3 separate regions of the Homo sapiens genome follow, and regions 2 and 3 are each linked to region 1. Evidence: fine-mapped expression QTL. A gene starts in region 1. Each other region holds a variant in brackets. All regions are shown on one strand. Distances are between the middles of the regions.

The links. PIP is the estimated chance that this variant, and not a neighbour inherited with it, causes the effect.
Region 2: its variant is fine-mapped to the expression of CSNK1E in tibial nerve (GTEx, PIP 0.98).
Region 3: its variant is fine-mapped to the expression of CSNK1E in whole blood (INTERVAL, PIP 0.96).

Annotation. Positions count from the first base shown.
Region 1 is chr22:38,311,892-38,321,844 of GRCh38, reverse strand. CSNK1E (casein kinase 1 epsilon) reads left to right here and starts at 4,412. Exons shown (of 11, transcript NM_152221.3): 1 at 4,412-4,685; 2 at 7,676-7,763. The coding sequence starts at 7,688. It overlaps TPTEP2-CSNK1E (TPTEP2-CSNK1E readthrough), which reads left to right. Exons shown (of 15, transcript NM_001289912.2): 6 at 7,676-7,763. The coding sequence starts at 7,688. RefSeq lists enhancers at 2,068-2,972, 6,774-6,823, 6,844-7,013, 7,084-7,143 and a silencer at 4,695-5,084.
Region 2 is chr22:38,287,604-38,297,556 of GRCh38, reverse strand. It overlaps TPTEP2-CSNK1E (TPTEP2-CSNK1E readthrough), which reads left to right. Exons shown (of 15, transcript NM_001289912.2): 12 at 3,023-3,215; 13 at 3,309-3,448; 14 at 4,238-4,302; 15 at 5,619-6,866. The coding sequence ends at 4,270. CSNK1E (casein kinase 1 epsilon) reads left to right here. Exons shown (of 11, transcript NM_152221.3): 8 at 3,023-3,215; 9 at 3,309-3,448; 10 at 4,238-4,302; 11 at 5,619-6,866. The coding sequence ends at 4,270. Among named protein-coding and RNA genes, the nearest start is that of TMEM184B, 20 kb to the right of the region's middle. RefSeq lists enhancers at 6,885-7,592, 7,593-8,302. The variant C/G (reference allele first, on the strand shown) is at 3,911.
Region 3 is chr22:38,359,043-38,368,995 of GRCh38, reverse strand. TPTEP2-CSNK1E (TPTEP2-CSNK1E readthrough) reads left to right here. Exons shown (of 15, transcript NM_001289912.2): 4 at 7,436-7,597. It also overlaps the pseudogene TPTEP2. Among named protein-coding and RNA genes, the nearest start is that of TPTEP2-CSNK1E, 35 kb to the left of the region's middle. The variant A/G (reference allele first, on the strand shown) is at 5,800.

The DNA.
Region 1 (9,953 bases):
TCCCAAGTAGCTGGGACTACAGGCATGCACCACCACACCCAGCCACCATGCTCAGCTAATTTTTGTATTTTTTGTAGAGAGAGCATTTCGCCATGTTATCCAGGCTGGTCTCAAACTCCTGAGCTCAAGCAACGCCTGCCTCTGCCTCCCAAAGTTCTGGGATTACAGGTGTGAGGCACCGCCTGTGGCCCAGCGCCAGGATTTTAAATTGGGAGACTGGGCCCAGACGTGGTGGCTCACACCTGTAATCCCAGCTTTTTGGGAGGCTGAGGCGGACGGATCACCTGAGGTCAGGAGTTTAAGACCAGCCTGGGTAACATGGTGACACCTCCATCTCTACTAAAAATACAAAAATTAGCCAGGTATGGTGGTGGACGCCTGTAATCCCAGCTACTCTGGAGGCTGAGGCAGGAGAATTGCTTGAACCCGGGAGGCGGAGGTTGCAGTGAGCCGAGATCGGGCCACTGCATTCCAGCCTGGGAGACAGAGCCAGACTCTGTCTCAAAAAATAAATAAATAAATAAACTGGGAGACCAGGAGGGCCTACCTCTGAAGGGGACTTGAGAAAGGTGAGAGGTGAGGGGGGTTGGTGCTCTGCGGGAAGAGCGCACCAGGCAGTGGAAACAGCCCCTGCCAAGGCCCTGAGGCCAGAGGTTCATTCCATGGGAGGCCAGTGAGGCTACAGGGCTGTGAGCAAGAAGAAAACTTACAGGAGCTGAGGTCAGGAGAGCCAGGTGCGGGGAGTGGAGGACAGATCCTGGAGGGCCGTTTTCAGGCCAGCCCTTGATGTTTAGTAAATCTATGAGTCCTTAGTCAAGACTGAGATTCCTGGGGCAGGTACTGAAATCTTTCTGGGTTTATCTGCAGCCATATCGTCATTATCTGGGAATTCCAGGGCTGTCCTTGGGATCCCAGCCCAGTGCTCCTGCGTGCCAAGTGATCTTGAAGGGTCTGAAATAGGGAGCAGGTAAAAAATGTCAGTTTGGGAACACAGTGGCTCACACTTGTAATCACAGCACTTTGGGAGGGCGAGGCAGAAGGGTCACTTGAGCCCAGGAGTTTCAGACCAGTCTGGGCAACACAGTAAGACCCCATCTCTATAAAAAATTTAAAAATTAGCTGGGTGTGGTGGTGCATGCCTGTAGTCCCAGCTACTTGGAAGGCTGAGGCAGGAGGATCGCTTGAGCCCAGGAATTTGAGGCTACAGCGAGGTATGATCCTGCCACTGCACTCCAGCCTGGGTGACAGAATGAGCCTCTAAAAAAAAGACAAAAGCCAGTTTGGAAAGGTGTTGTGAGAGCCACTATTCCTGAACCAATGCAGAGCAGCTGAAACCCAGGGTGGGCCCCTTGGGAGCTGGCAATTCACCCCACACCTATTCTAGCCTGATTTCATCTTCTTGTTGGCTTGCAGAGAAGGTAGCTAGGGGAACTTTGCCACACCCTTGGGTTTTTTGTTTTGTTTTGTTTTTTATTTATTTTTTTGAGACGGAGTCTCGCTCTGTCGCCCAAGCTAGAGTGCAATGGTACGATCTCGGCTCACTGCAACCTCCGCCTCCTGGGTTCAAGTGATTCTCCTGCCTCAGCCTCCCGAGTGGCTGGGATTACAGGTGCCCGCCATCGTGCCCAGCTAATTTTTTGTATTTTTAGTAGAAACGGGGTTTCACCGTGTTGGCCAGGCTGGTCTTGAACTCCTGACCTCAGGTGATCACCCGCCTTGGCCTCTGAAGTGCTGGGATTACAGGGGCGTGCCCGGCCCCACCGTTGGGTTTTAAAGTTAGGAGTTAAATCTGAGAGGAATCACTGTGAACCAAGTCGGAGAGAGAAGTCAGGCTGTGGGGCTGCTGGAACACGTAAGGTTTTGTTTTTCACTTTGGACCAGTCTCCCCTCCTCAGCTGGGTTTTGTGTCATGGTTTGCCTTCCCTTATAGCTTCACTGCAAAGCTCTTTGGAAGGGCCCACACACAGGTCTTCCAGGGATAGGAAGGACAAGGACTTGGGCCCACAACTCAGGCAGTGGACAACAGCATGTCCTTCCAATGGCAAGGCAGGGAGGCTCCCTAGCAGGCCTGGGGATGAGCCGGGCTCCTCAGCCTGGCTGGCCCAGGGAACTGAGCAGGATCTTAACTGGGGCAGGGGGTGGGGTGGGGGTGCTGGGGTGGGAGGTGTGGTTACAAGTCCTGAATGCAGAGGGGAGAACGTGAACGTGCTGCAGTCAGACCTGGCGATCTGGCTGGGTTAGGAAGGGGCAGGGGGTCTGTTCCAGCCAGGCCCAGTTTAAGGGAGAGGTTGATCTGTGCCCTTAGGCAAGCACTGGGAGGAGCCTGATTCCTTCTCTGAAAGAATACAGTGTAATCTGTTGTTGTTTGAGAGGATTAAATGAGATAACAAATAACCTCCTCTCCCAGGGCTGGTTGCCTTGAAAGTGCTGAAGAAGAGGAGGGCTTTGGGAAGCAGGGCCCAGGTTGGAAGGTTAGGGGTGGTAAGGACTGGAGGACACAGGGGCAGACTTCACCCCCTGCTCAATTGTGCCCAGGCCTCTCTGCCTGGGCTCATGTGAGGAAAGAAACAAAATGGGTGGCGGTGGGGTGGCGCTCAGGCCGGCTGAGAACTTGGGCCCAGAGTTACCGGATCTCCTAATGCCCCCAGAGAAACAGGGAATCTGGATCTGAAATATGAAATCTTCCAGTTTTAAAACTTTGGGGAGTGGCCAGGCATGGTGGCTCACGCCTATAATCCCAGCAGTTTGGGAGGCCGAGGCAGGCGGATCACTTGAGGTCAGGAGTTCCAGCCCAGCCTGGCCAACCCCGTCTCTACTAAAAATACTGTGTGGTCCTGGGCAAAAATTAGCCAGGTGTGGTGGTGCACATCTGTAATTCCAGCTATTCAGGAGGGAGGCTGAGGCTGGAGAATCACTTGAACCCAGGAGGCAGAGGTTGCAGTGAGCCGATATTGAGCCACTGCACTCCAGCCTGAGCCACACAGCGAGACTCTATCTCAAAACCAACAAAAACAAAAAGCAAAAAAAAAAAAAAAAACTTTGGGGATTAATTAACAAAACAACAACAGAAAGCACCGCGCAGGCCAAGTAAAGCCCACCACCTGGCTGGTGACCCCCTGCTCTGGCAAAGGTGTCACTGAAGGCAGGCCCTCCTGGGAGGAGGCTTCTCACTCTCCTGCTCTTGGAAATGGGCTCTAGATAGACCCAGTTTCCTGGTGATCGCTGGGAGAACAGAGCTGTCCTGTTGGGCTTTGTGGTCCTGGGCAAAGCCCTTCCCCTCTCTGGGCCAGTTTCCTGGCCGGCGAAAGGACTTAGTCTGTGGGGCTCCTGCCCGTTTGGACACGTGTGTGACTCAGTCCCTCAGCCTCGAGGAGGGAAGATACGGCTATTATAGAAGTGACTCCTCCCAGGAACTGTGCTTCCGGGATTGGACGCAGGGCCTCAGGCATTTTGCGTGTCCACAGTCACAACTGTGTGAATATAGGTGTGTCATAATTGGAAGCTTTGCATGGCTCAGTGTAAATATCATCACTTTAATGACTTTGTTCTGCAACCTTTCATCGCGGCTCTGCATGCCGGTAGAAGCTTTTATTAATTCTGTGACCTGGGGAGGACAGGGTCCTTCCTCCCATTTGCTGTTTAAGGAAACCCAAGCTCAGAGCTGGGAGGTGGCTTGGCTAAACGTGCACCACTCGGAGCCCAGACTCAAGTGTCGGTGCTTTGGTACTTGTGGCACCCCTCCTTCAACAGGGGAGAATGAGGTTGGGATCTGAGGGGTCCTCTCTGTGCCCATCACAGTTTGAGCTTCAGGGAAAAGAAGAAGAGGTCTTTGCCCTTCGTTTTTCCACGGGAGGAGAATGTATGAGCCCAGGCTACCTTTCTGGGCCTTGTGTCGACATCCCTAGCTGTCTCCTCAAATCTCTTGCCCTGAATCAACCTGGCCTGTGTTCTCTGCGGCACTCGGAACCTGGAGGCGGACTGAGCCTCCAGCAGTCTAACATCTTTTGCAGTGTCGTGAATAGCCGCCTGTTTTCGCAGGGGCCCAGTGCTCTGCCTGGAGAGGAGAGAGATCCTGGCAGGCGGGGAGAGGAGACTTTGGGTCTAGACCCTCCCCTCCCATCCCCTCACCTCCGCTTTTTGTGCGCCCTCCTCTTCCCTCTGTCCCCCCCGCACCCCGTCTTTTCCACCTGTGCCCTGGACTGCATTAGGGTGTCAGTATCTGTGTGCTCCCCCACCCCCACGCGTAAGCCCGCGCGCCTGCACTGAGGCTGGGGAACTGCGTCTCGCAGCTGCGGCCCCCAGCGCGGAGGGCGCGGGCCCTTTAAATCCTCCGGGGCGGCGGCGGCGGGCCGGGGATGACATCAGCGGGCGGGCCCGGGGCTCAATGGGAGCCGGCGGGCGCGCGCGGTGCGAGAGCGCGCGAGCCGGCGGCGGGGGCGGGCGGGCGGGCAGGAGGCCGGGAGGAGGGAGGCGGCGGCGGCGGCGGCGGCGGCGGCGAGAGCCCAGAGCCAGAGCCCGGCCGGGGCCGAGCGGAGCGCGGCGGCGGCGGCGGCGGCGGCGGCTGGGCCGGGAGAGGCTGGCGCGCCGGGCGGCTCCGCGAATCCTCCGGCATCCGCCCCGGCGGGCCGCCCCCGCCCGCGGCAGCCCCCCGAGCAGTGGCCCGGCATCGGCGCCTTCCCGGCGGGGTAAATATCGGGGGGCCGCGGGCCCGCGGAAGGGTGCAAACCTGGGGGGAATCGGGCTCCCTCAGCCTCTTTGTTTTTGCTGGAGAGGGAGGGAAGGGAGGGCAGACACACGCGCGTTCGCGCTGGGGTGTAGGGGGGGCAGCCCGGGCGCCGCCCGCTCGGCCCGGCGAGGACAAAGGCGCGGCTGGGGACGAGGAGGAGGGGGCCTGTTATTTTGCAGGCTCGCGGGGGAGGCCCCCCGGCCGGCCTGCCTCCGCTTCCCCCCGCTGGGCCCTCCGAGGCCCCGGCCGGCCAGGCGGCCACCCCGGCTGTGATTTGGGGACGCTGAGGGAGGGGGCTTGGGGTGCTGGGCGCCGGATACTGTTGATTCGGGCCCGCGTAGCGTTTCATCGGACAATCACCGGCGCCCCCTGCTCTCCCGGCCCCGGCGCCCGGACCTGGGGGTTCGCAAGGCTGCGCCCGCTCGTTGGATGACGGGCGTTTGGGGGTCCTAAGGTGAAGAGGTGTGTGGTCACCAGGCCACTGATTTGTTTTTCTTTGTGGAGAGAAAGAAAGGGGTGGGGGTTATTTGTCGGATCGGATTCTCCCATTTTTGTGTGAGAGATTGATGTCTTGCAAGTCTCTAAGGAACGCAAAACAGTGTCTGGGTGTCGTTAGAGGATTCCCAAGCTCTTGTTAATACCCTAACTCGAAGTGGGGTGAGCCCCCTCCCCAACTTTTCCCTTAGTTTTCTTGCATATTTTCTTCCTGGCATAGCCTCCTTCCTGGAGAAGGATTTGGAGAGAGGAGAAGGGGACACAAGTGTCTCAAGTTGCTTCCAAGCAATGCCTGTGTTTGGGTCTCCTTTGCCTTCGTTTCTATGATGTCCCTTCAATTTTTATTTTAATCGTCCGAGGGACAAGGGCCCCGGCTCAGGGGTAGGCGATGGTGTTCGGGGAGTAAGAAGCACTGCCCGTGTGCCATGCTGGTTGGTAGTTTGTCTAATTTTTTTAACCTGCTGAAACTCTTGAACCTTTATATCCACTTTTCCCCCCACTTTGTTTATCTCCCCCCCTCCCCCATGGGAGAAGCAGCAAAAGAACTGAAAAGCCTCTCCATTCCTGAATGAAGCTTTTCTGCTCTCCTCTGGGAGGCTTTTTGGGTATTGGTGCCGGGACAGTCTAGGCTCCCCCAGGGACCTTGGACCCCTGGGGTGTTGGGGAGCGACTGGGGGTCTGGGTGGCTGGCACATAGCAGTCAGGGGGTCCTGAAGGGCTTGCCCCTTCCCGCTCTCGTTCTCTGCAGACAGCCGGTGAGTGGGGAGAGACTGGGGGGTCATGTGCAGTATATTTATGTAAGACACCCAGACAGAGGGCACGGGTATTTATATAACCCGGCGTGGGTATTTATGTAATATAGGATGCGGGTATATTTATGTTCCTTTCCTAACCTGCGGGTTTCCTGGCTGCCATGTGTGGTCTCTGAATTGGTGTTGGCAGAAAGTGGACTGAGGTGTTGGGGGGGGGTTGCGTGCACACCCCCCCTTACCCCCCAACAGGGCTCACTGTGTGTGCCTGCTTTTCTTTCTTCCGTTGGAGTGTACACACTCGGGAAGCTGGACGTGTGTGTACGTGGGATGTGTGGCGTGTGGGTTTCCTGCAAACGTGGACTGTGTTCCCCTGGCAGCGTGGCACCTCAGCTGAGACAGGCCAAGCATATGGGCAGCGGCCCTTGATTGAGAGCCCAGAGTTTGGCCAGCTCTGGTGGAGGTCCCTGCCTCGTGGTTATTGGTGGAGGGCTGGTGAGCTCCTTGGGAGCCAGGTGCCGGGGTTCCCTGTCTCTCCTGGGATCTGCCCACTGTCCCTGGAATCCATCTCCCTCCCAGGCTGGCCTGGTTGTTGGGGGCAGCACTTGGCACGGGCAAGGGGCTGATCTTCTGTGCCAGCACAGCTGCTCTGCAGTCTTCCTGTTTTGCCCTGTTTGTGAGTGTGGGAGACCACCAGGTGGGACAGCCGGAGCCCTGTCCTCGGCGAGGCTGTACCATCTGCAGGGTGGTGTGGGACAGGTGGCATGGCCTCTGTGAGCCTGAGTACCCTGTCTGTGAAAGGAGTTCCCTCTTGCTAGTCCTTGATGCTGGTCCTCTTGTAAACACCCCTCCCCCTGTTTACTGCAGTCCCTGGTCCCTGTCCCCACGGCAGCACTGCCTCCAGGCCTTCAGTTTCCTCCTCTGCTGACCAGGAACAGGGTGTCCGGACTTTTGCCCCAGGCCAGAGCAGAGGGGTCCCTCCTCTGCCCCAGGCCAGAGCAGAGGGCTCCCCCCTGGCCCTGAGGAAGGAGAGAAGCTGCTCACATCAGAACTCCTCCTCCCACCCATCCGGGGCAGGCGGCTAAAACCCTGGCTCAGTCCCCTTTGTTGTTCTATGAGGGCCCTCTTAGGAGACCCTCCTAGTCTTAAAGGACGCCAGCTCCAAACAGTTTATCCAAGCGGCTATGGGCCTCCGTGTGAGGTCTTGGTGTCATGACGTAGAGATGGGGAGGTGGCTGGAAGGTGGATGGTCGAGGGCATTCTTTTCTGCCTTCCCCCCAGTAGGGGATGCGACTTTCTCCTGCAAGGCGTGCTGGGCACTGGCGAGGTCTGGCCTCTGGGCAGGGGCAGTACTTGGGAAGACCAGGCCAGGCTGTGGGAGCCTGGGGGGTAGGAGGTGTAAGAGGGCTGATGCCCGTTGTGATCCCTTGAGAAGCTTCTTTTGAGGGGCCCCTGAATGAGCATCCCCCAAAGACATGCTTGCTTGGCTGCTTCCTCTCTGGCCACACTGAAACCTGTCCTCAGCCTGCCTTAGCTGTTCCCCAGGTGTGTGGAGTGCAGGCTGTGGGCCACCTGACACCTGCAGAATGTGGTCTTCGAGAATGCAGGTTTTCGAGTTCCTGGTGGCTCTGCCTGGCCTTGGTGGACTGGACCCCTTTCCCGGCTCCCCACGTCGCTGACCCTCATGTTCCTGCTTCCTCTGCAGCAAGAGTGAGCCATGGAGCTACGTGTGGGGAACAAGTACCGCCTGGGACGGAAGATCGGGAGCGGGTCCTTCGGAGATATCTACCTGGGTAAGTGTTCCTAGCTCCAGCTGGAGCCCCTGGGGCCAGCCCATGGGACCAAGAGGAGGAAAGACCCCAGGATTTGGGGATCTGAAGTCAGAATGTGGCTCCAGGGGCATGATTTGCCCCAGGGCCATCCCAGATGGGGAAGGAAGCAGCAGGTTGCCGGGAGGCAGGCCAGGGGGCTCCTCTCGCAGGCCAGGCTGGGCACTGGAGGGTATTTTTAGCTCCAGTTTCTGCAGGAGTCATGCGGTTCTTTTGTGCCTCAGTGTCCCGGGTCAGCTGGGTCACCAGCTGGGTGTGGGAAAACCCAGGCGGGGTTCACATCCTCTCCCCTGCTTCCTGGGAGAAGGATATTGGTAGATAGAAGGGACTTGGGTTGCTGCTGGACCCCTAGCCAGGCCCCCCTCTCTATGTCCTGGCCTCCTGGAACCCAGCCCAGGCAGGCTTTGGGATGACGCAGGCTCCCCTGTAACCTCGGGGGTGGGGTGGGGGGATGCGGTCTCCTCATTAGGGAGTTCTCTCTCTCTCTTTTTCTCTCCGGATGTGCTTCCTGTTGAAAGTATGAGTATGCTGTGATGTTGCATTTTAAACAAATCACTGACCTCTCAGTCCTCCCCTTGGCCTGGGAGAAATGAGGCTTGCGCCTTTCAGTGCCACTTCTGAGGGGCACGGTCATGAGTCTTGGCCCTTCCTTTGTGCTTATTGGTCCAAAGGGAAGGTATTTAGTGTTGGTGCTTGTGGATTAGCGGGTGGAGGCTTGAAGTTGCTGGAGTGAGGTGGCCAGCCCTTCTACGAGTTATCCTCATTCCTGTCCCTGCACCCTCAGAAGCAGGCTAGACACACCTCTGTGCCTTGGTTACCCTCCTTGGAAAATGAAAATCAGCTCTGTCCAGTGCAGAGAACACCAAGTCTGTGTGTCGTGTCCATCAGCTCAGAACTTCGGGGTTTCTGTTACCCCATGGTTAGGGTTCCTTGGAGTATGAAATGTGCTAAGGAAGCCTCAATGGAGACGGGGACGGAGACTGGGAGTTCCCTGACCACTTCCTTGCAGGGTACTTTCTGCAGCCCCTAGAGATAGTACCAGATTATTTGTTTGGCACATCAGGAAACTGAGGCACAGATGGTCAAGTTGGCCTCCCAAGACCGCTCTAGAAAACTGGCAGAAGCAGCCTGTATGCCCACAGCCCTCCACATGAGTGAGAGCGTGGAAGACAGAACATGCCGAGGGAGACGTTAGACGTCTAGCTCTGCGTTCTAGACGTGGCTTTGTGTGGCTGTGGGAAGGTCATGCAGCTCCTCTGTGCCTCAGTGTCCCCATCTGTAGTTTGTGATAATGCTGCCTGACTGACCAAGAACTGTTCCAAGGCAGAGATGAAATGACAGATGGGAAAGTATTTTGTAAACTCTAAAGTGCCAGCCAGATGTGCAGTTCATTGCTGAGTGCTTAGTAGATGAGCCTCCCCTATGGACACCCTGGAGCTCAGAGGGAGGGAGAGTGTGTGGTGCAGCTGGTTTAAAGGTTTTTCTCTGCGACCCCAAGCTACTCCCGGGGAGGCAGGCATTTGGTAATATCTGCTAGTGCCCAGCGCAGTGGGTGTTCACTGAAGGCTAGTCAAGCAAACCAATGAGAAAATGGGGATTGTGACATGCACAGACATGCACAGTAGCCTCACAGCAGAATAGAAAAATGCCGGGATGGCCAGGTGCGGTGGCTCACACCTGTAACGCCAGCACTTTGGGAAGCCAAGACAGACAGATTGCTGGAGTCCAGGAGTTCGAAACCAACTTGGGCAACATGGTGAGACCCCATCTCTACAAGAAAAATATAAAAAGTAGCTGGGCATGGCGGCACGCGCCTGTAATCTCAGCTACTCAGGAGGCTGAGGTGGGAGAATCACCTGAGCCATGGAGGTTGAGGCTACAGTGAGCTGAGATCACACTCCAGCGTGGGTGTCAGAGTGAGACCATGTCTCAAAAAAAAGGAGGCCAGGAGATATGGCTCACACCTGTAATCCCAGCACTTTGGGAGGCCGAGGCGGGCAGATCACTTGAGGTCAGGAGTTCGAGACCAGCCTGGCCAACATGGTGAAACGCTGTCTCTACTAAAGATACAAAAATTAGCTGGGTGTGGTGGCACATGCCTGTATCCCAGGTACTCTGGAGGCTGAGGCGGAAGAATGGCTTGAATCTGGGAGG
Region 2 (9,953 bases), 24 kb after region 1:
GATGGTTAGGACCAAGGCTCTGTTCTCCTGGAAGCCAAGGTCGGCACATTGGTCTTGGGCTTCTCTTCTCTCTGGGTTTCTTGTTCACTAAGGAGTAACACAGAGGTCAGGCAGAGAATGGGGGTCTCGCAGGCTAGGGACCTCAGGGAGAGGCCTCTGTTGCCCTTTTCAGCAAGGCTGGAAATGGGATATGGGCAGGGGACGTCTTCTCTGACTTCACCCTAGACCTTCTGGCTCCAAATGGGGCCCATGGCCTTGAGCACCTGGGACCAGCTCTTTCCACCACAGGGCATTGGGCACTGGGCACTTTCTTATCGAGATAGTCACTCCCACGTCTGGTTCGTGATGGGCTTGGCCCTCCAGCTCAGCACAACTGCAAGAATGGATTTTGTATTCTCTAGACGGACACTGTCCAAGATGGTAGCCATTGGCCACATGCGACACATTTTTAATGAATTAAAATTAATCAAGACTGGAAATGTCGGCCAGGCCTGGTGGCTCATGCCTGTAATCCCAGCACTTTGGGAGGCCATAGAGGGCGGATGACTTGAGGTCAGGAGTTTAAGACCAGCCTGGCCAACATGGTGAAACCCATTTCTACTAAAAACACAAAAATTAGCTGGGCATGGTGGTGTGTTCCTGTAATCCCAGCTGCTTGGGAGGCTGAGGCAGGAGAATCGCTTGAACCCAGGAGGCAGAGATTGGAGTGAGCTGAGATCATGCCACTGCCCTCCAGTGGCCACCACATCCGGCAAGGCAGATGGGACCATTTCCTTCATCCAGAACGTTCTGTGGACATCACTGCTCTAGGTTCCTCCCTTATGGAGTCTCACAAGACTGTCTAGCCAGCAAGATCTCTTTTCCAACCAGGCCAGGAGCACCTCTCCACCCACTGCTGCTGGTCTGACCGCCTTCCTGGAAGTCCCTCTTGAGGCAGGCCCTGGAGTTAGAAGCTGGGCAGAGGCACCCACAGCCTTATCCTTTGCCAATCTCTGACTCAATGCCACGGCCACTGTAGTGAGCTGAACCACCTCCAGCAGTCCCCTGGCAGAAGCACCTGGAAAACATGCAATGGGAACCTTCACCCTGAGGCCAGGCCCTTCCCATGCTACCCAACAGTAGACAGGACACCCTGTGTTGTTGGCTGCACCGGGGTGCTGGGATCTGTGGATCCCTGGGGCCTGGAAGCCACTCTCAGCACATACAGCCACTGTGTTCCGAGGTCCAGTCAGCTGGCCGGGAAGGAATTCAACACAGCCAAGGACAGAGGTCCATATGATGACGGGTGGATGCTCGTGTGACTTTGCTGACCTTTTATGTTTTCTATGGGCAATAAAGGCCAAGAGAGCTCCCTGCTGTGTGTTTCTTGCGTCCTATGGGTTGGATGGGACCATGGAGAGTCGCCCACTTCTTGCCTCGGGGCTGGCAATGGCCTGAGCCTGCTGGGCTCACAAAGGGCAGGGGCTCCAGCCCTCTGCTTGGCTGCTGGCTGCAGGGCTCCACACCTTGGAGTGAGTCACTCAGCCTCTGTATCCCAAGCATGGAAATGAGATTGACCTGCCTCACAGGGTTGATGTGACTCTGCCCGCAGAAGGTTCGGCACGGAGGTGCCACAGCTCGTGTTCCTCCCCAGGCTTTGCTGTGGCTCTGGCTGAGTCACTGTTGGCCAGCCTGCAACCGAGTGGGAGCCCAGGGTGAGGACCGGAGGTCAGGAGTTAGAGCCCCGGTGGTCCCAGGCCTGCCTGAGAGGCTTCTGGGTGGGAGGATGGGAAGATGCATCTTCTAGAGTGTTCTAAGGCAAGACTCTGAACAGTGACCTCTTGGGGTGCAGAGAGCAGAGTGGGACTAGGTGGCAGAGGCCTGGGTTCAGACCCTAGCTCTGCCCTGAGCTGTGCAACCCCGGGCAGGTCACAAGGCCTCTCTGGGCCTTGGTGCCTCACTAAGATTCAGGGATCATTCTGGTCCTAGCCACTACTTCCTGGAGTTGCTTAAAGACAGGGCCCACCCCCACCTCTTGGCCAGTCTCCTGGGAGAGACATGGGTTGCAGGAACCACACCCTGTGCCCATGAGCAGGCCCCCAACTCAGCCCAGAGCTCTCTCCTCCACAGATGCGGCCCCCTTCCTGCCAGCCCCCTGCCCTTCCCTGTGGACGGCCCCAGGATGAACTAGGTAACGCAGTCGGGCGCTGCCCCCACATATGCTCTTCTCTGGCCCCTTCTCACTTCCTCCTGCACCAGGGGCGGCAGTGGCTGGACAGCAGGGCACCTGGGGGCTTAGGGTACCCCTTCTGCTCCAGCTTTGCCTGCTGGGCCTCTTCTTCCTCCGTGGGGAACGTGGCCCCATTTTCTTCTCCAGCTCCCCTTGAGCTTCTGTCCCAAGGCAGGCGGTGTCTGTGGGTTCCCTGGGCCTCCTGGCTGTGGCCTCCACTGCACCTGCCAGAAGCCATTGCCAGGTCCCGGCAGGGGGAAGGACAGCTCCCTGATGAGAAGAGCCCCTGGCTAGGTACCGGGAGAGCTGGTCTGAGTCCTAGCCCAGCCTTCCACTAGTTTTGTGACTCTGGGCCTGTTCTTTTCCCCCTCTGGACACCCCTAGCCAGTCTGCTAGAGGCCTCTAAACAGCTTTCCTGCTCGGTTTAGCAACCTTGAGTAGTTAAGGGCTCTTGGTACACAGAGGGGGGCCAGGGCAGGCCCAGCCCCAGGTCAGGAGGGCCAAGAGGTGCTCTTGATCATCCTGGGCGCATTAGTTGTCCTTTCTCTGGCTCCATCCCAGGAGAGCAGGGCAGACTGACCTCCCTCTGCCCCCAGACTCCTGCTTTCTCCTTCCTCTGGTGGTTGTGTGGCTTCGTGTCTCTGTGCTGTGTGATTGTGGGTCTTGGCTTCCCGCGCTTGTCAGGGAGGCTGGAGCAGAAGGTTTCTGAGATATCCACCTGGCCTCCCTCCCCTTCTGTGCCCTGCAGGGCTGCTGGGCCCAGAGCACCCTGGCCTCTGGGGCTGACTGGTGTCTTTTCTTGCATCCCTGCAGGGTGCAGCCCGGAATCCCGAGGATGTGGACCGGGAGCGGCGAGAACACGAACGCGAGGAGAGGATGGGGCAGCTACGGGGGTCCGCGACCCGAGCCCTGCCCCCTGGCCCACCCACGGGGGCCACTGCCAACCGGCTCCGCAGTGCCGCCGAGCCCGTGGCTTCCACGCCAGCCTCCCGCATCCAGCCGGCTGGTGAGCAGGGACTCAGGCAGTGGGCTGGGTTCAGGGTGGGTGGGGGGCTCTGTTTGTGCCTACTCTGAGGGTGGCTTCCCACTCTCCCTCCAGGCAATACTTCTCCCAGAGCGATCTCGCGGGTCGACCGGGAGAGGAAGGTGAGTATGAGGCTGCACAGGGGTGCGCCCGCCAACGTCTCCTCCTCAGACCTCACTGGGCGGCAAGAGGTCTCCCGGATCCCAGCCTCACAGGTGAGCTGCCCCCCTGCCAGTCCCTCTGGGCCTCAGAACTGAGTTAGAGACCCCCCAGTGGGAGGTCAGGCCGTGGCTCTGTTCTTCCCTTTCCATCGACGCTGCTTGCCTTGGAGTGAACCCCTTCTGTAGAGCCAGGACTTGGCCTCATTTAATCCTCTGAGGTCTGATGAGCCCTCTTGAGCAAAGTCATTCACCAAGGCTCAGGGCAGTAACATTCCCTGGCAAGTGGCACAGCTGGGCTCCAGTCCTCGCTGCCAGGGGCCCAGCCAGGGTGGGCAGCAGGGGCTCAGAGATGAGGTGTTGCTGCTCCCTGACATCAGGGAGCCCCCAGGAGCCCCTGTGAGCATTGGCAAGAGCATGGGGTGTAGGGGCAGTGAGGTCCCATCCTCTTTGGGGCTATGTTTGGATGGGGACACTTGGGAAGGGGGAATCTGTAGTTGCCCAGGGCAGGTGGCCTGG[C/G]AGAGGTGGGTGGGAGCCCTGCCCTCGTCCTCCTGCCTGTGGGCGAGGAGGGAGTCCTGCGAGAGAACCCTCATTGGCCATCTACTTAGGTAGCAGGTTTGCCTCCCTGGGCAACATTCTTAGCTACAGACAGGGACATCTTAGAGTCACTGGAATCACACAGGCCTTCCCTCAGCTTGAGGGGCTGCCTGGAGGTGGGGGTGGGGGTACACCTCCTCAGTGGGGAGAGACTTGCCAAATCTCTATCGCCAGCGGCTAAGGGACTTGACTTGAAGCTTGTACCTCCCTCTCTCTCCCTCCCCCTCTCTCCCTCCCCACCCTCAAAAGACAAGTGTGCCATTTGACCATCTCGGGAAGTGAGGAGAGCCCCCATTGGACCAGTGTTTGCTTAGGTGAGTCCATGACTGCTGCAGATGCAGCCAGCCCAGCCGACCTAGAAGCTCCCAGGGCCCCAGAAAGAGACCAATGTGTTGTGGAGGGGTGGGTGGCAGTGGCAGTGGCAGATGGTACCAGGCGCCCCAGAACTCTAAGGGGCCTCAAGTAGTTTAAAACCTCGGAGGCTGCCTGACTTGGGGCCAAGGGTTTCTATGCTCAGGCCTGACCCCTCATGGATTAGTTTCTGCTGGAAAAACTTTTTCTGCCCTCGGCCAGGTCTCTATCTCCTTCTGCCTTAACATATTTTGGAAGGTTGGTTCCCAGCAGAGACGGGGCCATGGGCTCACACTCTGACCTCTCCCACGGCATTAGCCCTGTCTCAGCCTCTGGGCTGTTACGCAAGTTAATTCCTGCACAAGACTCACAACAGGGCTGTGGAGGAAGCAAAGGAGCCCTTTTTATGCCTCTGTAGTAGGACTGAGAGAGGCCCTCTGGCCAGCGTGAGCCTGCTGGTTCTTCCCGGACTGTACCAGGCCTTGAGGCGGGGTATGGAAACGCCCCACTCTGGGGCCTGGCTTGGGGAAGGGGAGGCGGCAGGGGTTCTTTGGGCTTCTCGAGGGTATAATCTGAGCTCTCTGGGGAACGTGTGTCCATTTGTAGGCAGTAGTCCGACACGTCGGGGGACTCAACTTTACACTGGGACAATCTGTGTGTGGTCTGTTTTGTAGAAATTCATCCACACAAGAGAGTGGAGGCATGAACAGGGCTGGCCTTCCTCGGATCTCAGGCCCAGGAACCAAGCTGTCCATGGCGGGCTGGGCAGATATTTGGGGGTGGGGTGGGGAGATGCTCACCAGGAGGGCAGAGAAGGGAGAGAATCCGTTTCTGTCACATGAAGATGGATCTCCTAGCGTGCTGGGCCTTGAGCCAGGCTCTGGGGCCCAGAGGGAGATAGACCAAGGGACGAGAAGACAGGAGTTTGGGGGGCCAAGTGCAGTGGCTCGCACCTGTAATCCCAGCACTTCGGGAGGCCCAGACAGGTGGGTCACTTGAGGTCAGGAGTTCGAGACCAGCCTGGCCAACATGGTGAAAACCCATCTCTACTAAAAACACAAAAATTAGCCGGGTGTGGTGGCACACACCTGTAATCTCAGCTACTCGGGACGCTGAGACAGGAGAATTGCTTGAATCTGGGAGGTGGAGGTTGCAGTGAGCCGAGATCGTGCCACTGCACTCCAGCCTGGGGGACAGAGCGAGACTCCATCTCAAAAAAAAAAAAAAGTAGCCAGAGACAGCTGTGTACCTCACCTGTCTTTTCCCTTCTCCCTTCTAGTGTCTTCACTGTATTTTCTTTAAAAAAAAAAAAAAAAAAAAAAAGGCAAAAATAAACCACTCAAAAGAACAACAAAAAAACCCAGCACAAAACCGACGATGGAGTTTGTTTCTTTGATTTCTTTGCCAATGGCAAGAAGATGAGATGCCCTCAGCACTGAGGATTCTTGCCCCCTTGTGGTGCCCGCTGCCCCCAACCTTCAGGCTGCCAGATGCTCCCCTGACAACACCAGGCTACAGGAGCCAGACGCCAGGGCCTGCCCGGCCTCCTGTTCCTGCCCCCACCCACCACCTGCCTGGAGAGGAACGGGTCGGGTCCGTGTCGGAGAAGTGACAGGTCCCAGAGCCAAAGCCGGCCCTCAAGCATCATCAGGGAGTGGTGTAGTCAGTTGAAGGCAGTTCCCACCGAGTTTTCCGAGCCTCAGAATCCAGGAGATACGCACAGCCCCACCCACTCTGAGATGACAGTGGCTGACTTCCCGTGCTGGGCTTTTCCATTGTCCCCCTGGCCTCCAGGCTCCTCCTCTGCCTCTCCATGGAGTGGGTGGGGAGGTGGTGGGGGCCGGCGTCCCCTGCGTGTGTGTGTGTGTGTGTGTGTGTGGATGTATTGACCTGTGTTTCCCAAGACAGCAGGTGCCACGGCCCGCCCCGCCTGCCAGCCCGAATTCCCGTTCTCCTGTGTCTACTAACAAGGACATGGGGGTGGGCGGTGACCTCCGCATCCCTCAGAGCTCAGAGGGTCCTCGCTGCCACCGGTCCCCCCCTAGCCCGTCATCAGCCGGTGGCAGCTCCATCTTCCATTCCTGGTTTTAGGGCAGAATCCATGGAGACTGCTTCCAGAAGGCATCTGGCTCTGAGTTATAAATTACTTCCCTGGTCCTGACAGTCACCTGGGGTCCCCCCTCTCCCTGGTTCCACCTTTCTGAGGAGGAGCCTGGAGTCAGGGCTGGGTTTTGGATTAACCCATCCTTCCTAGTTAACACCTTTTTGTTTTTATTTTATTTTATTTTTGTTTGTTTTCTCCGTGTGTGTGTTTTCCTAATTTATTTACCTCTGTTTCCCCTTTTTCCTTTTTTTTTTTAATTAAAGAGCAAAGCTTTTTATTACTTTGTAATTTAAAAAACTGAAAAAAAAAAAACTGAAGAACTTTGGGGGGAATTTTGTACTTTTTTCCTGTGTAAATATTGGACTTTTTTGAGCTTTATCGTGGTTGTTAATTTGAAGTAATAAAGTAGAAAAGATAAAGTGATGCAGGCAGCCCTTTGTCCACCTCTGTGCCCTTAGGGCCTCTCCCTGCAGACCCGGAAGTGGGTCTTGCTGGGAGCAGCAGGAGTCAGTGAGGAACAAGCCCTCGCCCTGAAGGCAGGTGTGGCTGGGGCCACTTTCAGAACACTTGGGCTGTGGTTGGGATGTCCGGGGGCTTTGAAAACACGAGTGCACACAGGTGCCACGCCACAGGTGCCACGCGGGGGTCTTGTAAAGAGGGCTGGGGTGGGGCTGAGAGCTTCCCCCTGCACACTCCAGGTGTGCTGATGGCCTGGGGCCCCTCTTTGAGAAGCAAGGCCCTAAAAGCTCTTCACACATGATTTTATCCACACAAGTATCCTGAGTTAGGTCCTGTTAATAGCCCTGCCTTCGGACAAGAAACTGGTCCTGCTGTAAAATATCTTGCCCACAGTCACAGCTCTGGTGGCAGAGGCAAGACGAGCCGAGGTCATCTCGCTGTGGGGGTTGTGGGGGTGCTCTGACCCTCTCCACTGCTGACCCTGGGGCTCCATGAAGGAGAGTGCTGGAGCGAGCTCTGATAGTGACTCTGGATGAGGTCCTTCAGTCAAGCCTTGATAAAAGGGCAGCGCTCAGCCTCGCCTGCCTTGGTCTCACCAGCTTGGAAAAGAATCTGTCCATCTGCATTTACCCAACACAGTTTACTTCCTTTCGTCAACCGAAGAGCCATTATTGCCACAGTCTCAACCCAGAGGCAAGACGGAAGCTGTCTGGCTGATAGGTCTGCCTGGGAAGCGGATGGAGGGCCCTGGGAGGTTCCCCTCGGGCGTTTTGAAATCCTGGACATAGGTCAAGGCGCCTTCCAGTGCTGGCCGTCAAGACCCAGTGACCCACAGGCTCACGGCCTGGTGGAGGGTTTCCTGCTGTGTGAGGCCCAAGTAAAGGTGGGTCCCCTTTACAGGCATCAGGTATCAGGTGTGTTACCAAAGCCAGGAAATGCCAGTAGGCCCTGGAATGGCAGGTGCTAAGCAGAGCCTGGGCCTTGGGGCTGGGTGGCAGCCAGGAGTCAGTGGTCAATTGGTCAGCCTGCGAAGAGCCATTTTGTTCACCCGCACTTGGTTGAATGAGGTGCTGGGGGAATGCAGCAGAGAGTTCCCCTGCCTCCCTGGACTTTAGGACCTTCTGGGATGGACAACCTGACACCAGACAGCGAGTGGAAGTTACCAACTAGAGGCCCTGAGAGAAAATAATAAGGAGCTGGTCTTTGTCTTTTACAGTGAAAAGTATAGTTTTGTTTTTTTTTTTGTTTTGTTTTGTTTTTGAGACAGGATCTTGCTCTGTCACCCAGGCTGGACTGCAGTGGTGAAGTCATGGCTCACTGCAGCCTCAACTTCCCAGGCTCAAGGGATCCTCCTGCCTCAGCCTCCCTAACAGCTGGGACCACAGGTGCGTGCCACCATGCCTGGCTAACTTTTGTATTTTTTGTAGAGATTAGATCTCACTGTGTTGCCCAGGCTGGTCTTGAACTCCTGGGCTCAAGCAATCCTCCCACCTCAGTCTCCGAAAGTGCTGGATTTACAGGCATGAGCCATTGTGCCCACCCTATTTAATCAATTTTAATAATAAGCTAATGCTTCTCCCCCTCCTCTTTTTTGGTTTATTTTTTGGATATGAAGGTGTTTACATACACGAAAGTCAAGCTGTCTAAAAAGCTATAATCTGAGAATCCCTCCCGCCCCTGCTGCTCTGCCCCATTTCTACCCATCATGCTTCTTCCTGCATTCCTTTCTTAGAGAGCTAATGTTTGGGAGTGGGCAGTGACTGACAGCCTCTAAGGAAGTGACATTAATGCGTCAACCATACAGTTTAAGTACACCAAATAATCACAAGGAAATTTTGCCCCTACCAGAGGGGGCAAACAGGCACCTGGTGAGTCATTTTCATTCATGCCACAAAAAACACTTGCTAACTGGGCTTTTGTGTGGGCACCAGGGTGCCAGCTACTAGGCTGGAGGTGGTGCAGGCGTGGAGGGTTGGGAGCACAGGATTGGCATCCTGGGGGCTTCGGGCACATCTCAGTTTCCTCCTCTGTAATGTGGAGGTGATGATGCCTGTTTCTTTCTTTTTTTTTTTTTTTGAGACGGAGTCTCGCACTGTCGCCCAGGCTGGAGTGCAGTGGCGCGATCTCGGCTCACTGCAAGCTCTGCCTCCTGGTTTCACGCCATTCTCCTGCCTCAGCCTCCCGAGTAGCTGGGACTACAGGCACCCCCAACCACGCCCGGCTAATTTTTGGTATTTTTAGTAGAGATGGGGTTTCACCGTGTTAGCCAGGATGGTCTCAATCTCCTGACGTCGTGATCCACCCTCCTCGGCCTCCCGAAGTGCTGGGATTACAGGCAGGAGCCACCGCGCCCGGCTGATGATGCTTGTTTCTGAGGGTTGCCAGAATTCAGTGAGACCTCAGATGAACACAAGGGCTAAGCTCATTGAGGGTTCACCTGTGCCAGGCCATTTCCAACCCTTTGCTCCCAAAAAGACTGCGAGGTTAACGTATTATGTTCCTTATATTATTTTATTTATTTTTTGAGATGGAGTTTCGCTCTTATTGCCCGGACTGGAGTGCAATGGCACGATCTTGGCTCACTGCAACCTCCGCCTCCCAGATTCAAGTGATTCTCCTGTCTCAGCCTCCCGAGTAGCTGGGATTACAGGCATGCGCCACCACGCCAGGCTAATTTTGTATTTTTAGTAGAGACGGGGTTTCTCCATGTTGGTCAGGCTGGTCTCGAACCCCTGACCTCAGGTGGTCCACCCACCTCAGCCTCCCAAAGTGCTGGGATTACAGGCGTGAGCCACCGTGCCCAGCCATATGATCCCTATTTTATAGATGAGGACCCTGAGGCACAGAAAAGATGCCCTGGCTCGACAGCCCATGCTGCTAACATTGACTCCACAGTCCCAGGTGCCTCCTAAGCGCTCTGTTGGGATAACTCCTTGTTTCAAACATGAAGTGTGAATCTTCCTTCCAGGGACTCATGGCCTAGTCAGGGGAAGGACTCAGAGTAGCAAGTGGTTCACCCCAATCCAGAATCCAGTGTGAGAGGCCTAGTGT
Region 3 (9,953 bases), 47 kb before region 1:
AGGGGGATGATACTGGATTTATAGTAAAAGCTGGAATCAGTGCTTGGCTTTGGCATATCATATATTCATTCACCTGATACTCAGCAAGTCACTAACCCTCTTTAACTTTCAGATTATTCAAATGTAAACTGGCTATAATGCAATCTATGTACTGGATATTGTATTGTAAAAAATTAGTAATAAAACGAAAATAACATGCAAAAATACTTCGAAAACTCTGTAGATCTGTAAATAGGTTTTATTCTAAAAACTGAAAATAACGTAAGAGGTCATTAAAGGAAAATCAGAAAATACAATCAACAAATCTACCCACATATAGTCATTCTTAAGCTTTGATGCATGCACTTCTAAGTTCTTCAAGCATATACTTTTTTTGTTTACAGATATGAGACCATACTTATTCTTTTGTAAATAACCTTATTAATGACATCATTTTTTTTGTTAATATATATTCATGTGCACTTACAACATTATTTGTAACAGTTGTGTGATATTTCATGGTGTAGATGTGCTATATATAATTTATTTAATAGTCAGATATTGCTGAACAATTAAGTTTTTTACAAGTTTTTAACTGTTACAAAAATGAATATATTTGAGGCTAAATCTCTGTATATTGTTGGTTATTTGCTTGTTATAAATTCTCAGAAGTGGAAATTCTGTGTCAAAGGGAATGATTGTGACGCTATTGATACTGATATGTGCTTTAACATCAAGATGCAAAGTGTACATTTCTCCCCTCCCACACTTAACACTAGCCATCATTGATTTCTCTGATATTAGTAAATATATTTGTTCTAATGCACGTTCTTTGACACACCTTCATTTATCCTTTTCTGTCTTTGGACTGAAAAGTTAAATCTATTGATCCTTTTTCTATTTTATGTAATATAAGCAATTTCTCCCAGGTTGTCTTGCTTTTCACTATATAAAAGCATTTCATCCTCATGTAATCAAATGTATCTGTACTTTTCTTTGTGATTTTGCCTTTAATGTTATTCTCAGAAAGTCCTTCTTACCCCAAGATTTTAAACATATTCACCAAAATTTCTGTTTTGAATTTATTTTCTTCATTTAAATAAAATATCTGCCCTGAATTTACTTTGTCTTAAGGTATAAAGTGTAGAAATTTACTTTTCTCCTAAGTGACTCATAGTTTTTTCAGCATGAACATGTCATCCCCCTGTATTGTCCTTACCCTGTTTTAGTGATCTAGAGGGAGCAGGAAGACCAGAGTCACTACAGTGTTTTTCGTGCTTTTCATCATGGCCACCTCCCTACCCCCAGAGTCTGCACAAGAGAAAAATGTGTCCAGTGGGAGAGATAGCACCTGCCTTCAATACAAATCCCATTTCATTAAACATGGTCTTGTTAGTGTCATGTAGCTTCCACCTTCTATTGATAAAAAATGAGTCATGTTCATAGTTAATATTTTTGCTTTTAATTCAACTTTGATATTAATATTGGAACTTTTAAGTGTTTTAAGGTTTAGTATCTCATATCTTTTTTTCTCTCTCTTTTTTTTTTTTTGAGCCGGAGTCTCGCTCTGTCACCAGGCTGGAGTGCAGTGGCGCCACTCAGCTCACTGCAACCTCCGCTTCCCAGGTTCAAGTGATTCTCCTGCCTCAGCCTCGTGAGTAGCTGGGACTACAGGCACGCACCACCACGCCCAGCTAATTTTTTGTATTTTTAGTAGAGATGGAGTTTCACCATGTTGGCCAGGATAGTCTCGATCTCTTGACCTCATGATCCACCCACCTTGGCCACCCAAAGTGCTGGGATTACAGGCGTGAGCCACCGTGCCTGGCCTCTATCTCTTTATTTTTGAATTGTCATTTAAATTTAGTTTTTGTCTCTCGTGTATAGCATGTAATGCCTTTAATTTCAAAGTTATCTGAGAGTATTTCTCAATATGCAGTATGAGAGTAATATGTTTGTATTTATGATTTCTGGTACGTTTGGTTTTATTTATCATCTTTTTCTTTATTAAAAATACTTTGATATTTTCTTTGTAAATTTGTCTATATTTTGCAATTAATTGATTTGTTTTTATCCCTTGCATTTTTTGTTGATATGCAAGTCAGAAGCCCATTTCTAGTCTATCAATGTTTATATTTAAATGTTTAGAAAACATAATTATACCATTTTATCCATCAATATCGAGAATAAAACTGGACTTGTACCTGTGAAAGATAAGAAATGCAACCTGCCTTTACTTCTATCTTCTTCCACACCTTGAATCCTAGTGTAAGAATGCCTAAAAATTCAAATCAATACTATTATTCATGATTTTATATTATCTTTACTTTCAGAATCATTTATTTACATTTTCACCTGCTACTTTTCTTTTATTATTATACTGTAAGTTCTAGGGTACATGTGCACAATGTGCAGGTTTGTTACATATTCGTGCATGTGCCATGTTGGTGTGCTGTACCCATTAATTCGTCATTTACATTAGGCGTATCTCCTAATGCTATCCCTCCCCCATCCCCCCACCCCATGACAGGCCCTGGTGTGTGATGTTCCCCTTCCTGTGTCCAAGGGTTCTCATTGTTCAATTCCCACCTGTGAGTGAGAACATGCAGTGTTTGGTTTTCTGACCTTGCGATAGTTTGCTGAGAATGATGGTTTCCAGCTTCATCCATATCCCTACAAAGGACATGAACTCATCCTTTTTTATGGCTGCTTATTATTCCATGGTGTATATGTGCCACATTTTCTTAATCCAATCTATCATTGTTGGACATTTGGGTTGGTTCCAAGTCTTTGCTATTGTGAATAGTGCTGCAATAAACATACGTGTGCATGTGTCTTTATAGCAGCATGATTTATAATCCTTTGAGTATATACCCAGTAATGGGATGGCTGGGTCAAATGGTATTTCTAGTTTTAGATCCTTGAGGAATCGCCACACTGTCTTCCACAATGGTTGAAGTAGTTTACAGTCCCACCAACAGTGTAAAAGTGTTCAGTTTCTCCACATCCTCTCCAGCACCTGTTGTTTCTTGACTTTTTAATGATCACCATTCTAACTGTCGTGAGATGGTATGTCATGGTGGTTTTGATTTGCATTCCTCTGATGGCCAGTGATGATGAGCATTTTTTCATGTGTCTGTGGGCTGCATAAATGTCTTCTTTTGAGAAGTGTCTGTTCATATCCTTTGCCCACCTTTTTATGGGGTTGTTTGTTTTTTTCTTGTAAATTTGTTTGAGATCTTTGTAGATTCTGGATATTAGCCCTTTGTCAGATGAGTAGATTGCAAAAATTTTCTCCCATTCTGTAGTTTGCCTGTTCACTCTGATGGTAGTTTCTTTTGCTGTGCAGAAGCTCTTTAGTTTAATTAGATCCCATTTGTCAATTCTGGCTTTTGTTGCCATTGCTTTTGTTCACCTGCTACATTTTTATGCTACATTAACAATTATTATTTAGACTTACCTAATTTTGAGTTTATATTATTTATCATCTTTTCTCTGTAAGTCATCTTCCTTATTTCTGTGTTCTTCATTTTGATTCATTGCTCAGCTGACTCAAGCACTTTGAGTAATTGTTTTTAGGAAAGGTACATGGAGGCTATGCTTCGTGTTGCTTCATGTTGGAGTATCTGTCTGTTGTTCCCGAGTGTGAACCGTACTTTTCCTGGGTATGGATTTACTGAGTCATAGTTATTTCCCTGCAAACTCTGCACATAACTGCTTGAAGCTGCATTTACATAGTATACCTTTTTAACCAAAAAAGTCTCAATTGTGTATTTACTTGGTATAGTTTCAGGGGACACTCAAACAGATTAAGGGGCTAAAGCCACCCAAGCCACTTCTTCATGCCTTCGTAATCTGTCAGACTTGGTTCTGTATGGTGACATTGTCAAGTGAGTTCAGATTTATGACATTTCCTTGATACCCAGAGATCTAGTAGACTGTGTGGGATCAGAGGTTCTTGTAGTAAGGGAATGGCAACTTGAGGAGAGAATTCACCTCTTTTGGCCAATTGATCCTCCATCTATATCAGCCTTAACTCTCCAAGCCTGGGTGGAGGTGGTGGGTCCAGGTGGAGAGGGGAAGATTAGAAGGATTGGGGATTTCCTTTATCTCAGGTTAACCTAACATCATTCATCAAAGGCCAATTTTGTTTTTTTTAACTTTTATTTTAGGTTTGGAGGTACACGTGAGGTTTGTTACATAGGTAAACTTGTGTCAGGGAGGTGTTTTTTTTTTTTTTTTACATATTATTTCATCATCCAGGTATTAAGCTCAGTACCCAAATAGTTATCTTTTCTGCTCCTCTCTCTCCTCCTGCCCTCCCCACTCAAGTAGACCCCAGTGTCTATTTCCTTCTTTGTGTTCATCAGTCCTTATGATTTAGCTACCACTGATAGGTGAGAACATTCAGTATTTGGTTTTCTCTTTCTGCACTAGTTTGCTAAGGATAAGAGCCTCCAGCTCCATCGATGTTCCCACAAAATACATGATCTCATTCTTTTTTTATGGCTGCATAGTATTCCATGGTATATATGTACCACATTTTCTTTATCCAATCTGTCATTGATGGGTACCTAGGTTGATTCCATGTCTTTGCTATTGTAAATAGTGCTGCAGTGAACATTCATATGCATGTATCTTTATAGTAGAATGATTTGTATTCCTCTGGGTATCTACTCAGTAATGGGATTGCTCAGTCAAATAGTTCTGCTTTTAGCTCTTCAAGGTATTGCCATAGTGCTTTTTACAGTGGTTGAACTAATTTACACTCCCACCAACAATGTGTAAGTGTTCCCTTTTCTCTGCAACCTTGCCCGCATCTGTTATTTTTTGACTTTTTAGTAATAGCCATTCTGACTGGTGTGAAATGGTATCTCATTGTGGTTTTGATTTGCATTTCTCTAATCTGTGATATTGAGCTTTTCTTCATATGCTTGTTGGCCACATGCATGTCTTCTTTTGAGAAATGTCTGTTCATGTCAAAGGCCAATTGTCAGTGCCCCAGTTCTGCTCAGTATCTGCCCTCTTTGTTCTCCAGTCTTAGGCACAGGCTGTGAGCATTGTCTTAGGATTCATGGCTCTTGGGGTGGAATTTGAGTCCTGTGTTGGAGGCTTCAGTATGACAGAAACTTCCTGAAGACTTCTCCTACTGAAGCCTCCTGTGTTGGAGGCTTCTCCTCCTGAAGAGCTTCCAACACAGGAGGCTTCAGTAGGACAAAAAAAATTGTTCCTCATGAGCTACCTTGTCTCCAGCCATAAGGTAAAATGAGGCATTATTGGAGGCTCCATCAAACAGGTTCTCCTTCCTTTGATTAATGGAAGGAGCCCAGTCTTTCGGGTGTTTCTCCTTTGAAGTATATCTTACTAAAATGTCTTACCTCTGAAGTTCATTTGCAACCTCATATGCGACTCTTGCTAATGTATATCTGCTCACTAGGTGTCTAGTTTGAGGGGATGACAAGAGCATCATTTACTCCCTATGCTCATTCCTGAAACCTTATTTTATTGCAGTGGAAACTGAGATCTGGCCAAAGTTTGATGATTTGCCCAGGCTGGCATTAAAATACAGTTCTCTTCTACCACCCTTTTCTGTCTTCATGCTATACTCCTTGAGATGATGACCACAAGTTTAAGTTTAGTATTGCCATAAAGTTGGGGTTGGGGCTTTGCATGCAATGGAAATGTTACTAAACATCCAAAGTTTACTGTCTTCTGGATAGCATAGTAAACAAGTAAAATACTCATGGAGCAGGAAGAATAACATTTTAGCTATTAGTAAAAAGCATTTTGTTATACAACTTCTGAATAATTTTCTTTTAA[A/G]ATTATATTTATAAGGGCCTTTGTTTTTTGGTTAAATTTACAATATATGTTAGAAGAAATCTGATTAATTTTATTTTTACTTCTTTTTGCAGCAGTAAGATTAAGAAAATTGTGCATTCAATTGTATCATCCTTTGCATTTGGGTATGTGAGACACAGAAAACACCATGTATTAAATATATCTGAGACTTGGCTGGGTGTGGTGGCTCACGCCTGTAATCCCAGCACTCTGGGAGGCCGAGGCGGGCGGATCACATGAAGTCAGGAGTTCAAGACCAGCCTGGCTAACATGGTGAAACCCCATCTCTACTAAAAATACAAAAATTAGCCAAGCATAATGGTGGGTGCCTGTAATCCCAGCTACTCAGGAGGCTGAGGCAGAAGAATCGCTTGAACCGAGGAGGCATAGGTTGCAGTGAGCTGAAATTGCACCATTGCACCTCAGCCTTGGTGACACAGCAAGACTCCATGTAAAAAAAAAAAAAAAATGAGTCTCATATATATCTATACATACATATATATATATATGAGACTTAATACTTCAATGAGAAACACTGAAATAAAATAACAAAAAAGCATTTCCACTGTCCATCAGTTGCTAAGTAGCCATGTGCCCCATCTAATGTAATCTAATTTATCATGGAATTTTGGTTTAAGCTGGACATTAAGAATTGCAAATAAATGGCTTTTGCCTAAGATTAATAGTAACATATTGTTTTTCTTCCATCTGCAAAAGTAACATTAATGAAAATCAAATGTTAAAATTCTGTAATTATTAGTAAAGTGTTTTATTAGTACCTTATACATCTGGAATTACTCTTTAATTCTGGAAACTATTTATTTAGACTACATAAGAGTAAGATTTCATACTATATGATATAGATTTATGCAATATAATTGTTTCCTTTTGAATTAATAATATTTGAATTTGAGCTGCAAGTTTTTAAAAAAGTACTTCAAAGACTAATTCACCTTCATAGATTAGGCAAATAGTCGAATCAATTTATGGAGAATGTATTTGGAATATGTAACAGCAAGTGGCAGGAGGTACTTTAGAGTTCAAGACTCATGTGCCCATCACTCTGCTCGAAGCACCCATAAAGATGAAATCATGGACTTGTTGAAAATGTCACTGATGAAAAATCTTGGTCTTTTAAGAGCTTATGTTACTCATGCTTTCATTTGGTTTTTATTAATAAATTCTTTAGAATTATCCAGATTAATGAGGGTTTATTTTTTATGAGAAGTTGGTATAAACTTCTTATGAAATTCTCACATTTTAAGAAGAGTTTGTAAACAGACACAGGTGATTTTAATTCAGTTTTACTTTTTCTCTCTTGAGGTGTTGGTCTGATGTGTCTACTATAAAAGGCCATGATAATATCTTCTGAAGTGGTTTGGTGAGAATTTTGTTTATTAAGAACTGCTTCTATTGGGTGAAAACAGTGATTTTTCTGAGATTCTAAGGCATTACAGTTTTTCCTGCCACTGGGCAGCTTAATACTAAATAATAACATTTTGGTACCTGATCAGTGGCTTAAATATAGTATAGCTATAGGGACAAATGCCCCTTTATCTTTGCATTTATTTATTTATTTATTTATTTATTTATTTATTTATTTATTTATTTATTTTAGACTATTTGGAGTTTTCCTCGTCTTACTGGATGTCACTCTCGTCCTTGCCGACCTAATTTTCACTGACAGCAAACTTTATATTCCTTTGGAGTATCGTTCTATTTCTCTAGCTATTGCCTTATTTTTTCTCATGGATGTTCTTCTTCGAGTATTTGTAGAAGGGTAAGTTTGATTATTTTTATAATAAGAACCACTTTGGGAGGCTGAGGTGGGAGGATCCCAAGGTCAGGAGTTCGAGACAATCCTGGCCAACATGGTGAAACCCCGTCTCTACTAAAAATACAAAAATTAGCTGGGTGTGGTGGTGGTTGCCTGTAATCCCAGCTGCTTGGGAGGCTGAGGCAGGAGAATCATTTGAACCTGGGAGGCAGAAGTTGCATTGAGCCGAGATCATGCCATTGCACTCTAGCCTGGGTGACAGGGTGAGACTCCGTCTCAAAAGAAAAAAAAAAAAAAGCATTTAAAAATAATTAACAGGAGCATTCACTGCAAACTGACTTAAGAGCCTTTGGGCCTTATGAGAACATTGGTGGTAGTCTGGCAGTACCTCCCCATGGCCTGTGTTTGAGGTGGCCCTGGATTGATGCTCCTCTGTCTTTGGACAGGGGTGGAAATAGTGGGAGGGACTGCATCTTGTGGTTTGAGTGACAGCTCAGCCATAGCACAATAAAACACTACGTAGACTTTTACAGTTTTTGATCTAGGCCCTGATTCCCAGACAGCACCTTTGGATCCACCTGGAGGCTAGGAGAACTTGCCATCCTGAAGGGAAGGACACAGGCCTGGCTGTTTTTACCATGTGATGACTGTAGAGCCCCAGGGCCTTCAGCAAACTCATGCAATAGCTAAGGAGTGGTTACAGCAGGTCTTGGGCAAGACCCCGTGCTGTGCTGGCCTCAGGTCTGACCCAATGCAGTCACAGTAGTGGTGGCCACAGAGGTGCTTATGTCACTCAACCCCAAGCTTTAGGTGCCTCAGAACAGAGAGAGAGACTCTGTTTGTTTGGGAGAAAGTAAGGGAAGAAAACAAGAGTCTCTTTTTGGTAATGCAGAGAATTATCCTGGATCTTGTCCAAGACCATTAAGGCAGTACCGCTATGAGTCTGCAAGAACCAGAGTTTAGGAGGCTTGGGGTGCCCCCTAAAGCAGATAGAGATTAGATCACAGTATCCAAGTTCTTTCAAGTATCTGGAAAGCCTTCCCAAGAAAGATGGGTACAAACAAGCCCTGACAGTGAAAACTACAATAAATACAGTGAAAACTACAATCAATACCTAACTCTTCAATGCCCAGACACCAAAGAACATCTGCTAGCATCAACACTATCCAGGAAAACATGACCTCACCAAATGAACTAAATAAGACACCAGGGGCCAATCCTGTAGAAACAGAGATATGTGACCTTTCAGACAAAGAAATCAAAATAGCTGTGTTGAGGAAACTCAAAGAAATTCAAGATAACACAGGGAAGGAATTCATAATTCTATTAGATAAGTTTAACAAAGAGATGGAAATAATTTAAAAGAATCAAGCAGAAATTCTGGAGCCAAAAAATGTAATTGGCATGCCAAAGAATGCATTAGAGTCTTTTAATAGCAGAATTGATAAACCAGAAGAAAGAATTAATGAGCTTGAAGACAGGCTATTTCAAAATACATAGAGGAGACAAAGGAAAGAATAAAAAACAATGACGCATGCCTACAGGATCTAGAAAATAGCCTCAAAAGGACAAATCTAAGTGGTATTGGCCTTAAAGAGGAGGTGGGGAGTGTAGAAAGTGTATTCAAAGGGATAGTAACGGAACGTCCCAAACCTACAGAAAGATATCAATATCCAAGTACAAGAAAGTTATAAAACACCGAGCAGATGTAACTCAAAGAAGACTACCTCAAGGGATTTAATAATCACAGTCCCAAAGATCAAGGATAAAGAAAGGATCTTAAAAGCAGCAAGAGAAAAGAAACCAATAATATACAATGGAGCTACAATATATCTGGCAGCAGACTCTTTAGTAGAAACGTTTCAGGCCAGGAGAGAGTGGCATGACATATTGAAAGTGCTGAAGGAAAAAAACATTTACCCTAGAACAGTGTATCCAGTGAAAATATCCTTCAAAGTGAAGGGGAAATAAACACTTTTCCACACAAAAGCTGAGGGATTTTGTCAACACCAGACCTGTCCTAGAAGAAATGCTAAAGGGAGTATTTCAATCAGAAAGATAAGGACATTAATGAGCAATAAGTAACAACCTGAAGGTATAAAACTCACTGGTAATAGTAGGTATACAGAAAAATGCAGAATGTTATAACACTGTAACTATGATGTATAAACTACTCTTACTCTAAGTAGACTAAACTATGAGCCAATCAAAAATATTAACTACAACTTTTCAAGACATAGATGGTATAATAAGATAGAAATAACAAAAAGTTAAAAAATAGGGAGACAAAGTTAAGTTGTAGAGTTTTTATTAGTTTTCTTTTTACTTGTTTATGAAAACTTATAAGATTAAAATAATG